Homo sapiens: one gene and its partners. The protein of the gene in region 4 interacts with the protein of the main gene of each other region in a pairwise test. Each region holds a gene or a part of one and is shown on either strand. Other genes may lie near its edges. The genes, in order: KDR, ALAS1, ROR2 and DUSP19.

The links.
Region 1: the proteins of DUSP19 (region 4) and KDR interact in a two-hybrid assay, tested with the Homo sapiens proteins (one study listed by BioGRID and IntAct).
Region 2: the proteins of DUSP19 (region 4) and ALAS1 interact in a two-hybrid assay, tested with the Homo sapiens proteins (3 studies listed by BioGRID and IntAct).
Region 3: the proteins of DUSP19 (region 4) and ROR2 interact in a two-hybrid assay, tested with the Homo sapiens proteins (one study listed by BioGRID and IntAct).

Annotation. Positions count from the first base shown.
Region 1 is NC_000004.12:55,115,560-55,119,128, reverse strand, and holds part of KDR (vascular endothelial growth factor receptor 2 precursor), read left to right. Parts: intron 1-328; coding exon 329-525; intron 526-3,569. UniProt on the Homo sapiens protein: Tyrosine-protein kinase that acts as a cell-surface receptor for VEGFA, VEGFC and VEGFD. Plays an essential role in the regulation of angiogenesis, vascular development, vascular permeability, and embryonic hematopoiesis.
Region 2 is NC_000003.12:52,204,591-52,208,159, forward strand, and holds part of ALAS1 (5-aminolevulinate synthase, non-specific, mitochondrial isoform 1 precursor), read left to right. Parts: intron 1-102; coding exon 103-325; intron 326-1,248; coding exon 1,249-1,433; intron 1,434-1,981; coding exon 1,982-2,161; intron 2,162-3,492; coding exon 3,493-3,569.
Region 3 is NC_000009.12:91,754,717-91,758,285, reverse strand, and holds part of ROR2 (tyrosine-protein kinase transmembrane receptor ROR2 isoform 1 precursor), read left to right. Parts: intron 1-726; coding exon 727-1,014; intron 1,015-2,184; coding exon 2,185-2,215; intron 2,216-3,569. UniProt on the Homo sapiens protein: Tyrosine-protein kinase receptor which may be involved in the early formation of the chondrocytes. It seems to be required for cartilage and growth plate development. Phosphorylates YWHAB, leading to induction of osteogenesis and bone formation.
Region 4 is NC_000002.12:183,085,244-183,088,812, forward strand, and holds part of DUSP19 (dual specificity protein phosphatase 19), read left to right. Parts: intron 1-1,796; coding exon 1,797-1,949; intron 1,950-3,569.

The DNA of each region.
Region 1 (3,569 bases), on a different chromosome or scaffold from region 4:
CAAGCAATTCTCATGCCTCAGCCTCCTGAGTAGCTGGGATTACAGGCATGCGCCACCACACCTGGCTCATTTTTGTATTTTTAGTAGAGACAGGGTTTTACCATGTTGCCCAGCCTGGTCTCGAACTCCTGGCCTCAGGTGATCCATCCGCCTTGGCCTCCCAAAGTGCTGGGATTATAGGCATGAGCCACCATGCCTGGCCGGTAGAAGACTGACTGTGTCTGTTGAAGAGTTTATTTAAGTTTCAAAACCAAATTTTCTCTTTTCTTAGAAATAGCCTCACAGTCTGGCACTTCATATTAATACCTCCCTGAAATTAATTTTTCAGGGGACAGAGGGACTTGGACTGGCTTTGGCCCAATAATCAGAGTGGCAGTGAGCAAAGGGTGGAGGTGACTGAGTGCAGCGATGGCCTCTTCTGTAAGACACTCACAATTCCAAAAGTGATCGGAAATGACACTGGAGCCTACAAGTGCTTCTACCGGGAAACTGACTTGGCCTCGGTCATTTATGTCTATGTTCAAGGTAAGTGGTGAAATAAAATTCATTTCCCACGTCTCTTTACCAGTTATAAAAGACAATAGGCTCAAAGAAGAATTGAGTACAACAAAGGGCTTGCTCTAAAGGCTGTTTGCCAAGAGGAATACACACAATTCTTCTCTCCTGAGGCTTTCTCTGAGAAATAAGACTCATTGATTCTGGAGCTTGGGCCGTGTTACCTCTTTTTTGCCCAGTTAGTTTGGGTCTGATCTTTGTTTCCAAGGTAAATCTGTGTTCACTGTTGGCCATTGAGACTTATAAAAAGTCTTCCTATGTTTGAGAAGAAAACCTAAAATTCTTGAAATCGAGGAAGATTTGGGGGTGAATTATGGAGAAATTTCTGTGGAGAGATAAGTTATCTACAGCAGAGTAGGAGATTTTCCCAAGAATGCATAGGAAAGCATTTTTTGCCAAGGGCTCTGGAGTTTTTTGCACATAGGAACCTTTTTTTCTTACTAGTATTTCATAAAAAACAATTCCCATACTCATGTGCAAATAAAGACATTGCTTCAGACTCTTTTCAGGACAATGTTTCTTTCCTTTGCTTGTTTGGTCTGAGATCTTGGATGATATGCTGTATCTTTCTAGGATGTGCAGTTTGGGATTGATATTATGAAGGCTGACTTAACATCCATATAGTATAAAATAAATGTCACACATATTCTGCATTTATAATGAGTTATGCATTCTTTTGTGTTTCAAAAATCTTACACTATCTTATCTTTTCTGTGAAAACCTAACTTAACTAATGAGATCCCTATGATATAAATTTAAGGAATGTAAGGGCTGCATCATAGTTTGGTTGGATGTACCAAATATTTTTCTTTTCAGTGAAGATAAACAGACATTTTATGTATTTACGTATATGCCTTTTTACATCCCAGAGTATTTGAGACAGGTGAAGATGACTTAGACTTTTTTCCCAGAAGCAGCTTTTACAGGGCAAGAATTTCATCAGCTTTGGGAAACACACTTGCATATCTCTGCTTACATTTCAGTAGTGTAATATGGTCAGTGCAATGAAAAAGTGGAGACCACATCAAAATAACCTATGCCACTGGATTCACAATGTTTGAGAAATATCTTTGCCCAGAGTAAGCACTGTCAAAGATAGAATTCTGTGCCCTCCTCCTTCCCTCCACAAGATTTGAAAGAGACAAGGCTCACATCTTGGAGAATTTCTGGCTCCTTTTGACCTGGCAGTCTTGAGAGATGCAGCTCGGTCAGAAGATTGCAAGGATTTCCTGCTTTCAGCCTGTCTAGAAATACTACAAGATGAACATCCCCCATATCTCATTATTTACTTCTTCCTAAGTCAGGAAACTTGGAGACATGTGAAAATTCATTTCATGAGTTTCAGTAAATATTTTATTTTGAGAGGCTGGGTGGTGGTTTGGGTTTCTTTTGTTTATTTCCTTTTTTTGAGATACCGAAATAGAATTGATTTACTAAATAGGTTTAGTCTTACGTCAAAGGGTTAATTTAGCTTCCAAAGGCTTGCTCTGTAAGCAAGTTATGTAATATTTCATAACATGTGGATGAAAGGTAGGCAATATTAAGAAGTGGCAATCCCTAGCACTGTTTATTGGTACACTGCCTGTCTTTGGGTATACCATTAAATTCTGCTTCCTGTCTAAGCTTAAAGTTCTAGGAGTTGGGCTGTCCAAGATTTTGGCCATGAAGTTAAACAATGGGAAAGGAAACACTGAAGTATTCTCTATGGATAGGTGTTTAATGTCCCCTCTGGTCGCCACCTTACTTCCCTAGTCTTCTGACCCCATTCTCTTCAGCAATGGATGGAGCCAGGAAGTGAGCCCTGGCCTCATAAGATAATGGCTATGGCATGTGGTGGGCTAGATTGGCTGCTTTTCTGTGCTTTCCAGCTGGGAAGGAAATCAAACTTCTGCTGTTGCAGGGAATTAGCTGCCTTTGTCCCCTGTGGTTTAATTAACTCTTTCTTCACTTTGACTGACTATTATGAAGCACTCTGAGAATGCTTGATGGGATGTGTTGGGCATAGCAATGTGAAATGTTATCTCTCTGAGATTTCAAGCATGACTCCACACCACATCATCTCTATCTCTGAGGAATGGACTAGGTTTCCAGCAGCATGTTAACATTGTATGAGTAATGTTTGATTGGCCTTGAAATCTTTTTTTTTTTTTTTTTTTGAGACGGAGTTTTGCTCTTGTTGCCCAGGCTAAAGTGCAGTGGTGCTATCTCAGCTCACTGCAACTTCTGCCCCCCGGTTCAAATGATTCTCCTGCCTCAGCCTCTGAAATAGCTGGGACTACAGGTGCGTGCCATCATGCCTGGCTAATTTTTTGTATTTTTCGTAGAGATGGGGTTTTGCCACGTTGGTCAGGCTGGTCTCAAACTCCTGACCTCAAGTGATCCACCTGCCTCAGCCTCCCAAAGTGCTGGGATTACAGGCGTGAGCCAAGAACCCAGTCAGAATCTCTTCAGTTTTCTTCTCAGTCTTTGGAGTGGTGACTTTTCAAATGTTTGTCATTGAAGATATCAATGACTGCTAAATGTTAAACTAAATGCAAAAACAATTAAACATGGTTTTAGAAAGAATCATATCCCTAGTCTTCAGAATCTTAAAATGCTCACATGAATGGTCCTCTTGAATAACCAAATTCAAAAGTGTTAGCTGTTTCCTGTTAATCTAAAGATCCTTTGGGATCCATTCATTTATTTTCATGGAATTTACATTATTTACCTAAAGAGAGAGCACATGAGTATTTTAAATATTAGTAAAACTTGTCGGTAAAGTGTATAGATTTAACTTTAAATTTTAAAGTAAATATTATCCTTCATTTTGAAAAAATTATAATGATTAATCTTTTAAAATGTGAAATCTATAAAAATATATTCTGCTTGTCAATAAACCTTGTGAAAGGAGTCAATCTCAATTGGGAGTTTTTTTTCAAAATTTTTATACACACAGATATATACACATGCATGTGCATGCACAAACACACACACACACATACACACACACCCTCATGTAGCACAGATATCTA
Region 2 (3,569 bases), on a different chromosome or scaffold from region 4:
CAGGATCTCCCTCAGTTGCCAAGCTGAGACTTGTTGTATTTCACCAAAATGCAGCTGTGTTTCACAACCACCATTCTGTACTGTCTTTTGTTCAATTTTTAGCTGTTTCCACTTTTCAGTATGATCGTTTCTTTGAGAAAAAAATTGATGAGAAAAAGAATGACCACACCTATCGAGTTTTTAAAACTGTGAACCGGCGAGCACACATCTTCCCCATGGCAGATGACTATTCAGACTCCCTCATCACCAAAAAGCAAGTGTCAGTCTGGTGCAGTAATGACTACCTAGGAATGAGTCGCCACCCACGGGTGTGTGGGGCAGTTATGTAAGTAGCCCTTGGCTTTCAAATATTACTGTTGTTATTTGGCAAGCCAATGATGATGTATAGGGGTTGGATCTTTTATGGAGGGAACATTCAGTAGCTGAAAGTGTGCCATAGCAAAATACTATTCTTAGCTTCTGAAAAATATCTACAGATTACTTTTAAAGGAACTCTAATATGCAGGTAGCTGCTGGAGCCCCTTAACTTGTGAGGGTTCAAGCTTATAGGCTCAATGACCACACACGTCAGTCCACTTTCTATCACTCTGCAAGTGAGTGTGCCTTTAACACCAGGCAGTCTTTCACAGAGACATCCTTGGTTGTGGCTGTGAGTGGAGAAATACGAATCTAGCAGCGCTAGAGAAAAAGCTACTCCAAAAGACATGTTAAAAAGGATGGTAGATCCCATCACTCGTCCTTCAGGAGGCTCACCATCCTAGGGATGCTGGAGAGAGTTGCTGGCCAGATTCTCCAAAGGCTTGCTAAAGAGGGTCCCGGTTTGAGGTTTAATGATAGTGATATATCCAAACATTACATGACTGGCTTGCAGAGGGTAACCACCATCCAGGATGTCCCTCTAGAGTTTGCTTTTTCTTAAGCTAACATGTTATTGGAAAGAATAATGTTTCTCAGAAAATAAACCTTAGTTTCTTAGAAAAGAAACTCAGCTAATACCAAGCACTTACTGACTGTTAAATGAACACTTGTTCTTGATGATTCCTGGAGGTATCATCACCCTAGCATTGACACCTTCTCCCACCTAGTCTGAAGATGAAATCAGTTGAAATTTCTGACCCCAGGTTTCACAGTGAGAGAGTTGCTACATCAACATGTTTCAGTCTCCTGGATCCTAGAAAGGGGAAAAAATTCACATGGTGTTGAGAACCATGAGCTTTATTTTCTGGTTTTGTTTGTATTTTTAAACAGGGACACTTTGAAACAACATGGTGCTGGGGCAGGTGGTACTAGAAATATTTCTGGAACTAGTAAATTCCATGTGGACTTAGAGCGGGAGCTGGCAGACCTCCATGGGAAAGATGCCGCACTCTTGTTTTCCTCGTGCTTTGTGGCCAATGACTCAACCCTCTTCACCCTGGCTAAGATGATGCCAGGTAAGGAAGCCTGGCATGAGTGCCTTCGAGTTTTTTGGGTTTCTTAGTAATAACAAGAATATTGGCAACAAAGAAGCCTTACCAGAACCTCTCAATTGAAAATCATAATCCTATCTGGGCATTTGTTCTGGGGTCAAGCATGAAATGCTGACTGTACATTATGGGTTCCAGGAGAACGTGATACCAGTGAAAATTCAAACTTGAAACGTCTCATCCTTGAGCTAATTGCCTCAAATATGTTTTGTATTCTAAGATGATCCTTTGGAGAAGTCTCTTAATCATTTAGTTAGCTCTTGATTGAGTTTGGAGTGAGGCAGTCAGATTTAAGAGCAGATTAATGGCCTGCCACAAGGTTATTCTACACCTTTGGGCCTTCTCACAAGGGAAGCACTAACTAGTTATTTTGCCAGGAAGAAACTGGCACACAGTGTCTTTTTCCTACTAGGCATTTTCAAAGCATCATTTCCAAGGAAAAGTCTGTTGTCTTTCTCTAGGAAATAATTTGTCTTCGATGCACATGGCAATAAATAGCATTTTTGTTGTCTTAGGCTGTGAGATTTACTCTGATTCTGGGAACCATGCCTCCATGATCCAAGGGATTCGAAACAGCCGAGTGCCAAAGTACATCTTCCGCCACAATGATGTCAGCCACCTCAGAGAACTGCTGCAAAGATCTGACCCCTCAGTCCCCAAGATTGTGGCATTTGAAACTGTCCATTCAATGGATGGTAAGTGTGGATAGAGGTTCCTCTGAAACCTAAGATGAAAAACTATGCCTGAACTCTTTAAAAGTATGGTGTTTTGTTGTGTTTTTTAATTTTTTTTTTTTGTGACCGATCCTCGCTCTGTTGCCCAGGCAGGAGTGCAGTGGTGCGATCTCGACTCACTGCAAGCTCCGCCTCCCGGGTTCACGTCATTCTCCTGCCTCAGCCTCCCGAGTAGCTGGGACTACAGACACCTGCCACCACGCCTGGCTAATTTTTTTTTTTTTTTTTTTTGAGACGGAGTCTCCCTCTGTCACCCAGGCTGGAGTGCAGTGGCGTGATCTCGGCTCACTGCAAGCTCCACTTCCTGGGTTCACGCCATTCTCCTGCCTCAGCCTCCTGAGTAGCTGGGACTACAGGCGCCTGCCACCACGCCCAGCTAATTTTTTGTATTTTTAGTAGAGACAGGGTTTCACCATGTTAGCTAGGATGGTCTCGATCTACTGACCTTGTGATCTGCCCGCCTCAGCCTCCCAAAGAGCTGGAATTACAGGTGTGAGCCACCGCACCTGGCCTAACTTTTTGTATTTTTAGTAGACGGGGTTTCACTGTGTTAGTCAGGATGGTCTCAATCTCCTGACCTTGTGATCCGCCCACCTTGGCGTCCCAAAGTGCTGGGATTACAGGCGTGAGCCACCGCGCCTGGCCTGTTGTGTTTTTTAATTTTCTTTTCCTTTCTGCCAGGATTTTTTTTTTTCTTCTTCCAACTTTTAGGTTCAGTGGGTACATGTGCGGGTTTATTATATGGGTAAATTATGTGTCACAGGGTGTTGGTGTACCAATTATTTCATCACCTAGGTAGTAAGCATAGTACCCAATGGTAGTTTTTGATCTCACCCTCCTCCCACCCTCCACCCTCAAGTCGGTCCCTGGTGTCTGTTGTTCCCTTCTTTGTGTCCATGTGTTCTCAGTGTTTAGCTCCCACTTATAAGTGAGAGCGATATTTGGTTTTTCCGTTCCTGTATTAATTCACTTAGGATGGCCTCTAGCTCCATCCGTATTGCTGTAAAGGACATGGTCTCATTCTTTTTTTATTGCTGTGTAGTATTGCATTCTGCCAAGATTTGTAATTGGTGGACTTTTTTCTAATAGATTTGGGTGAAAGTGGATTTTCTATTCTGGCTTTTACTAGGCTCTGGGACCCCAGGTAACCTAGAAATTAGAGGAAGTTCATTTTCTTTCCAATATTGAAAATGATACCTTAGAATAGAAGTTTACGTTGTTCTGACTCTAACCAAAACAGAAATTTCTGAAGCGGCAAAAGCTCTTCAGAGCAGTCTCTGGTCTTTCCTCAGGGGCGGTGTGCCCACTGGAAGAGCTGTGTGATGTGGCCCATGAGTTTGGAGCAATCACCTTCGTGGATGAGGTCCAC
Region 3 (3,569 bases), on a different chromosome or scaffold from region 4:
CCGTAATTGTGAGTTCACCTAATACCTAAAGTCTATTTGTAACCTCCAAATCAATACTTACGGTGCTTTTGTGGCCTTTCACAGACACACGCCCACGGCAGTGAAAAATTTGTGTCCCAGCTGGGGCTAAACAAGGCGATGGTCTGCTCCCTGGTTTCTGCCCTCATATTGTGAACATGTGGCCTTTTCTTGGTCTATTTAGTGCCAAGTTTCTTGCATATTTGGGCTTTTTGTTGGTGATTTTATTGTTTATGATGGCCCCCAGGCACAGCACTGAAGTGGTCTGGTGTTCCTAAGTGCAAGAAAGCTGCGACATGCCTTATGGAGAAAAAAATGTGTGTGAGAGAAGCTTCGTTCAGGCATGAGTTATGAGGCTGTTGGCCATGGGTTCAATGTGAAGGAATCAACAGTACACATTGAATATGGTGTCTTTAAACAGAAACACACATAAACCAAGGTTATGTATTGGTTGGTTGGTGAAAGTATTATGACGAGAGGCTCACAGGAATTTGACTCTGTATTTCCCATAGGAGCAGTGGTTCAGTATTCACTAATTCAGTGTTCCCTGTAGCTTTCTAGAAGATAATTACCGCAGATAACAACCTATTTTAGTAGGTGACAAAAATCGAAACCTTCCCTTGGAAGAGTTCATAGCAGAGCCCCCAGGTAGCCCTTCCTTCCAGCCCTCACTGACGCTTGCTCTTTTGTGACCGCTCTCCTTGGCAGGTTACTTTCTGAATTTTCTGGAGCCAGTAAACAATATCACCATTGTCCAAGGCCAGACGGCAATTCTGCACTGCAAGGTGGCAGGAAACCCACCCCCTAACGTGCGGTGGCTAAAGAATGATGCCCCGGTGGTGCAGGAGCCGCGGCGGATCATCATCCGGAAGACAGAATATGGTTCACGACTGCGAATCCAGGACCTGGACACGACAGACACTGGCTACTACCAGTGCGTGGCCACCAACGGGATGAAGACCATTACCGCCACTGGCGTCCTGTTTGTGCGGCTGGGTGAGTTGGACAGTGAAATTGTGTGGGTTAGCAGATATGAAGGTTCCCAGCCACCGAGCAAGAGGTCCAGTTGCTATTTGAAACTGAACACACACCAGTCAGCACGAGGGGAGAGCAATGAAACCGTTCCCTAGGGCCTTCCCCATGTGCCCCAGGGCCCAGCTTGACCTGTTACCCATTTACTAGTAATAAGAGAAAATAGGGCGAGGCACGGTGGCTCACGCCTGTAATTCCAGCACTTTGGGAGGCCGAGGTGGGCGGATCACCTGAGGTCAGGAGTTTGAGATCAGCCTAGCCAACATGGTAGTAGTTGGCCAGTTTAGTAGAAACTCCATCTCTACTAAAAATACAAAATTAGCCTGGCATGGTGGCGGGCGCCTGTAATCCCAGCTACTCAGGAGGCTGAGGCAGGAGAATCGCTTGAACCTGGGAGGTGGAGGTTGCAGTGAGCCGAGATCACGCCATTGCATTCCAGCATGGGTGACAAGAGTGAAACTCTGTCTCAAAAAAAAAAAAAAAAAAAAAAAAGAGAACAAAAAGAAAATAGGTGCAGATGGAGAGGTTTATGGACCTGGAGCCCAGAAGACAATCCCAGGCACACACGAGGAGCTGAGGTGTTTAGCAGGAAGGCTGTTTGTTAGGAGGTCAGGTGTCAGTGGGAGAGTGGCCACACTGCAGGACGGCTAGGTAGGGCCCGAGGCTGACCTGGCTGGGGTGGGGAGAGAGCTGAGTGCGATGACCAGAGATTCTGAGTCTCTGTGCTCGTCACACCTGGTGAAGGAATTAAGTGGCAGGAAGGACTGTGTCCCCCTTCATCCCACCTGTGAAAAACTCCCAGGCAGCAAACGCCCCGGCCCTGCCACCGAAGCCCACGCCATCCGATCATAAGTAGTAAAACAGATTTTGTGTGTAAAGACTAGATGAGAAGAGAGAGAGTAAGGACAGCAAAAACTCCAAAAACAAAGATATCCTCAGTGACAAAGCACCCCTTCCCTTGTGTGTGGTTTCCAGCCTTGCTGACGTAATCACGAGTGGAGCCTGAGGCCCGAGGACAGCTGCCCACCAGTGAGCCCGCTGGCTTCAGCCTGTTTGCCACTGGCCTGATTTGAAGAAGGTTGTATTCCAAATCATGGAGTATTAATAACTTGTCTTTTTGTTTCCTCTTTTTAGGTCCAACGCACAGCCCAAATCATAACTTTCAGTAAGTATCTGTTTTCCCCAAGCCGTGTTCTGCTGCTCTGAGGGTTTTTGTTATGTAGGAATCCGGGGTTTAAATCCTGCCAGCTCATGTCTTTGCCGAATTTGCTAGAAGTTGGCTGGGCTTCACACAGGGGTGGCCACGTGCTTGCTTAGGGTTGGGAAACATTTACATTTTTCATGTTTCTTGTACAGAAAAAAAGTCAGAAAAACAAAAATGGTTAATTTCTTTCTGTGATTGTGACCTTACACAGGGCTACTGAGAGGAGTATAAATATACAGGCCAGGTTGCCTGGGCACCAGGAAGGATACCGGCTCATTAGGACATTGGGAAACAGGGACGTAATTCACTCTGAAATCCCAGCACTACCAGCTGCAGTTAATAAATGTGTGCCCCTGAGCCTTGGGCCACCCCGTGGCAGTGGGTGGGAGTCTCAACCCCACCTTGCAGATGAGGAGACCGAGGCTCACAGCCAGGCTCACACTCCTTCACGAGCTGCTGACAGCAGTGGCTTTGAACTCAGGCCTCTGGTTTCCCAGTACGAGGTTATTCCACTGTGGCCAGGCTGTCTTGGGAGAGTCCCCTCTGAACTGCCCACACTCTCCCATCGTGTACCCAGAGGAGTGCTCATTCCATTGCCGGTGTTTGAGATGAGCAGTGACTGTCCGGGTTTCCTGCATTTCCTCCTCAGACATATTGGAGAGCAGTGCTTCACTTTGAGATGTTCTGAACAATAGCATGAACACTATATGGTTGGTAAAGTGTGCAGTGTTGGCTGATTTCTGTTTCCCTGGGCCTTGTACCCATTACCCACCCATGATGTGCTGCAACACCACGTTGGGAGGCTGGGCAGGGCAGCGACCTGTCTCAGCAGACATCAGCAGCTTGCTTGCAGAGGGCAGATTTTTTTCCCCCCCCAAATAGACAGGCCTGGCTTTTCACCCAGACTGGAGTGCAGTGGCACGATCACAGCTTACTGTAGTCTTGTACTCCTGGGCTCAGGCCATCCTCCCCCTTCAGCCTCCCAAGTAGCTGGGACTGCAGGTGCGTGCCACCACACACCCGGATAATTTTTTCTTATTTTTTGTAGAGATGGGGTCTCACTATGCTGTCCAGACTGGTGACAAACTCTTGCCTCGAGCAATCCTCCTGTCTCGCCCTCCCAAATCACTGGGATTGTAGGTGTGTGCCACCACACCTGACCTAGAGGGAAGATATTTGGGAAGATTCTGTGCTGAGCAATAGTGATGGAGCATTTTTCCTTAATAGTCCTTCAGACACAGAGTAAGGAAAGAAGAAATTGCATCATGAGCACAATTATGGGGCTTTGGAAAAAGGCATATAAGTCATTTCAAAA
Region 4 (3,569 bases):
ATGACAGAATCTTATCACAGAACTGATAAATTGAGGAATATCACCCTATATGGAATGATCAAACAAAGAAGAGTCCGCAGTGGGAAAGGAGGATCTAAAAGAGGCCCAAAGAAGGTAAAACAAAAAGATGGTGTCATGGAAACTAAAGAGAATAGTGTTTTAAGGAGGAGAGAGTCAGCAATGTCAGATGCTGTAAAAGTTTAAGTACGATTAGGACTAAATTATATCCATGGGACTTGGTGACAGAGAGGTTGTTAGTGCGTTTGGTGGAAACAGTTTCATTTGAATTGGAGGCCAAAGCCATATTGCAAAAGATTGAGAAGTGAGGAAGTGATGGCAAAGGGAAAAAAAAAAAGAGAGAGAGGAGCCATAGGTGAGGAGGGGGAGGGGAGAGCTTTGAGCATGTTTTAAGGCTGATGGTAGAAGAAGGAATTGAAGATACAGAAAAGCAAGAATTATGACTATAGGGAGATGCCAAGAAAGTAGGAAGCACTGTGACTCCAAGCACAGGTTCTGGAATGAGCCTTATCGAAGATGCACGAGCACATCCTTCATTGTAATCAGAAGGCAGAGGGGAAGTACAGATGTGGACAAGGTTGTTAGGTTTTTTTTTTTTTTTTTTTTTTTTTTTTTTTTTTTTGAGGCAGAGTCTCGCTCATTTGCTCAGGCTGGAGTGCAGTGGCATGATCGTGGCTCACTGCAACCTTTACCTCCTGGGTTCAAGTGATTCTCAGCCTTTGGATTATCTTAATGGACTGTCTGCCTGGCTTTCTTCCACATGGTTGGTGGACTCTAGGAAAAGGGGCTCAAATACATAGATGCAAGAGGAGGAGGTTGCTCAAGTGTACCATCTGAAAGAAAATATTTTACAACCACACCTCCCCTTACTTTTCAGCCAGATTGGTTCATCAGAATCTCTGGGTATGAGACCCTGTGTTATTGATAGTTTTTAAGAGTTCATCAGGTGACTCTAATGTGCAGTCATCCTGGAGAACCATTTTATAAAGTAAAGAATATGAAGGAAAATAGGGAAATAATTCTTGAAAGGGAAGTTGTATACCACTGATACACTTCTCCTATTTAAGTTTTTATATGGATATTCACAGATTAATTCAACAAAGATTTTAAGCATTTTCTGCTAAACTCACTGCTCATTCGCTTATAACACTAAGTTAAACATGGTCCCTACCCTCATGGAGTTTCTAGTGCAGTGAAAGAGAAAAACAATCTCTAAATGGCATGAGCTATAATAGGGCAAGTCCAGGGCTATGAAAATATATAGGCCAGGTGTGGTGGCTTATACCTGTAATGCCAGCACTGTGGGAGGCGGAAGTGGGAGCATCACTTGAGGCCAGGAGTTCGAGACCAGCCTGGGCAAAAAAAGTGAGACCCGCCCCCCTCTTCTCTGAAAAAAAAAAAAAAAAAAAAAATTAGCTGGGTGTGGTGGTACACGCCTGTAGTCCCAGCTACTTGGGAGGCTGAGGCAGGAGGATCACCTGAGCCTAGGAGTTCAAGATTGCAGTGGCCTATGATTGCATCATTGCACTCCAGCCTGGGTGACAGAAAGAGACCCTGTCTCTGCATGATGATAATAATAAGTTAAAAGAGAGAGAGAGAGAGAGAAAACATATAGTAGAAGGAGCACTTCTGGTGTGGGATTGAAGCAGTATTATCATTCAAGTGAGTCGCATTTAAATTTTTTACCTTTCTTGTTATAGATATCAACACCCCAGTCTCTTTTTAGGTAACCTAATTCATGGGATTTAAAACAATCATCTTTTTTCTTTCTCTTTAAGGTGACTCATATTCTTAATGTTGCATATGGAGTTGAAAATGCTTTCCTCAGTGACTTTACATATAAGAGCATTTCTATATTGGATCTGCCTGAAACCAACATCCTGTCTTATTTTCCAGAATGTTTTGAATTTATTGAAGAAGCAAAAAGAAAAGTGAGTTTTGTTTTGATCCATAGTTCTGCAGAAGCAGAAATTTGAAAGTGTGGATCCATTACCCAATCTTTATTATTTTTATAATGAATCTCTAAAAAACAATTATGAAATTTCCCTTCTAACAATATTTCATTATTTCCTACAATTATTTGGTTAATTGCTCTTTTTTCAATGAGATGTTTAGTTTCAACATTAATTCAGACTATAAAACAGAGACTGCTCTAGACTTGTTAGTGTATTTATGATGATTAATATGCATTTGATTTTAATGAATGAGATAGTTATTGTGAAACTATGCATTTTTAGCAGTAAAATTTTAAGGCACTCTAAGGACTAAATGTGTATTGCTTTACTTAGATTGTATGAAAATGCTGATCAGAAACTGTCTGTTGGTTTTCTGAAGTTAGAAGACCAATAGCCAATGTCATATAGTACTTCAGGCTTGTTATTGAAGTCAACATTCTGACAGGCAAAGTTTCTAGGTTGGCTGTTATCAACAATTATTCCTTGAAATGTCATCATTTTTAGTCAGCAAATAATTCTTACAGACTTTATGTAAGATACGTAGATGGGAAAGTAGAAGCATTTACAGAGAGAAATAACTCTTCTGGAACACCTAACAATGACAGGATTACAATCAGGTTTAATTGAACTCTGGCCTACCTTCTCTCCCTTTATCTTTTCTCCTTCCCATTTTCTCTTCCTCTCTCCCTTCTTTCCTTTCATTTAGTAATATTTATTGAATGCCTTAGGTGCCCAGCACTGTTCTACGTGCCTTCCTACTAGACTACCCAGAAAATATAAAACTATTCAATTCTACTGTTCATCAACTTTACTTAATAGCAGATACAGTCATGCACTGCATAATGATGTTTGGACTGCATATATGATGGTGGTTCCATAAGATTATAATAATGTATTTTTACCATACCTTTTCTATGTTTATGTATGTTTAGATACACAAATACATACCATTGTGTTACTGTTGCCTACAAGTCAGTACAGTAACATCTGAACAGGTTTGTAGTCTTGGAGCAATAGGCCATACCATTCTAGGTTTGTGTGAGTGCACTCTGTGATGTTTACACCACGAAGAAACTGCCTAACAACACATTTCTCAGAATGCATCACCATTGTTAAATGATGCACGACTGTATTTGGATGGAAGCAAAGGAAGAGGTTTTTTTTGTTTTTTGTTTTTTGTGTTTTTTTTTTTTGTTTTTTTTTTTTTTGAGATGCAGTCTCACTCTGTCGCCAGGCTGGAGTGCAGTAGTGTGATCTCGGTGCACTGTAACCTCCGGCTCACTGCAACCTCCGCCTCTCGGGTTCAAGTGATTCTCCTGCCTCAGCCTCCCAGGTAGTTGGGACTATAGGAGCACACTGCCACACCCGGGTAATTTTTTGTATTTTAGTAGAGACAGGGTTTCACCGTGTTGCCCAGGCTGGTCTTGAACTCCTGAGCTCAGGCAGACCACCTGCCTCAGCCTCCCAAAGTGCTAGGATTACAGGCATGAGCCACTGCACCTGGCCAAGGGAGAGGTTTTTTAATTCAAAGCCTAATATTGGCCATTCTGTTTTCTTGTTAAAAAATTTACAGGCTCTGGATTGTAACATTCCAGT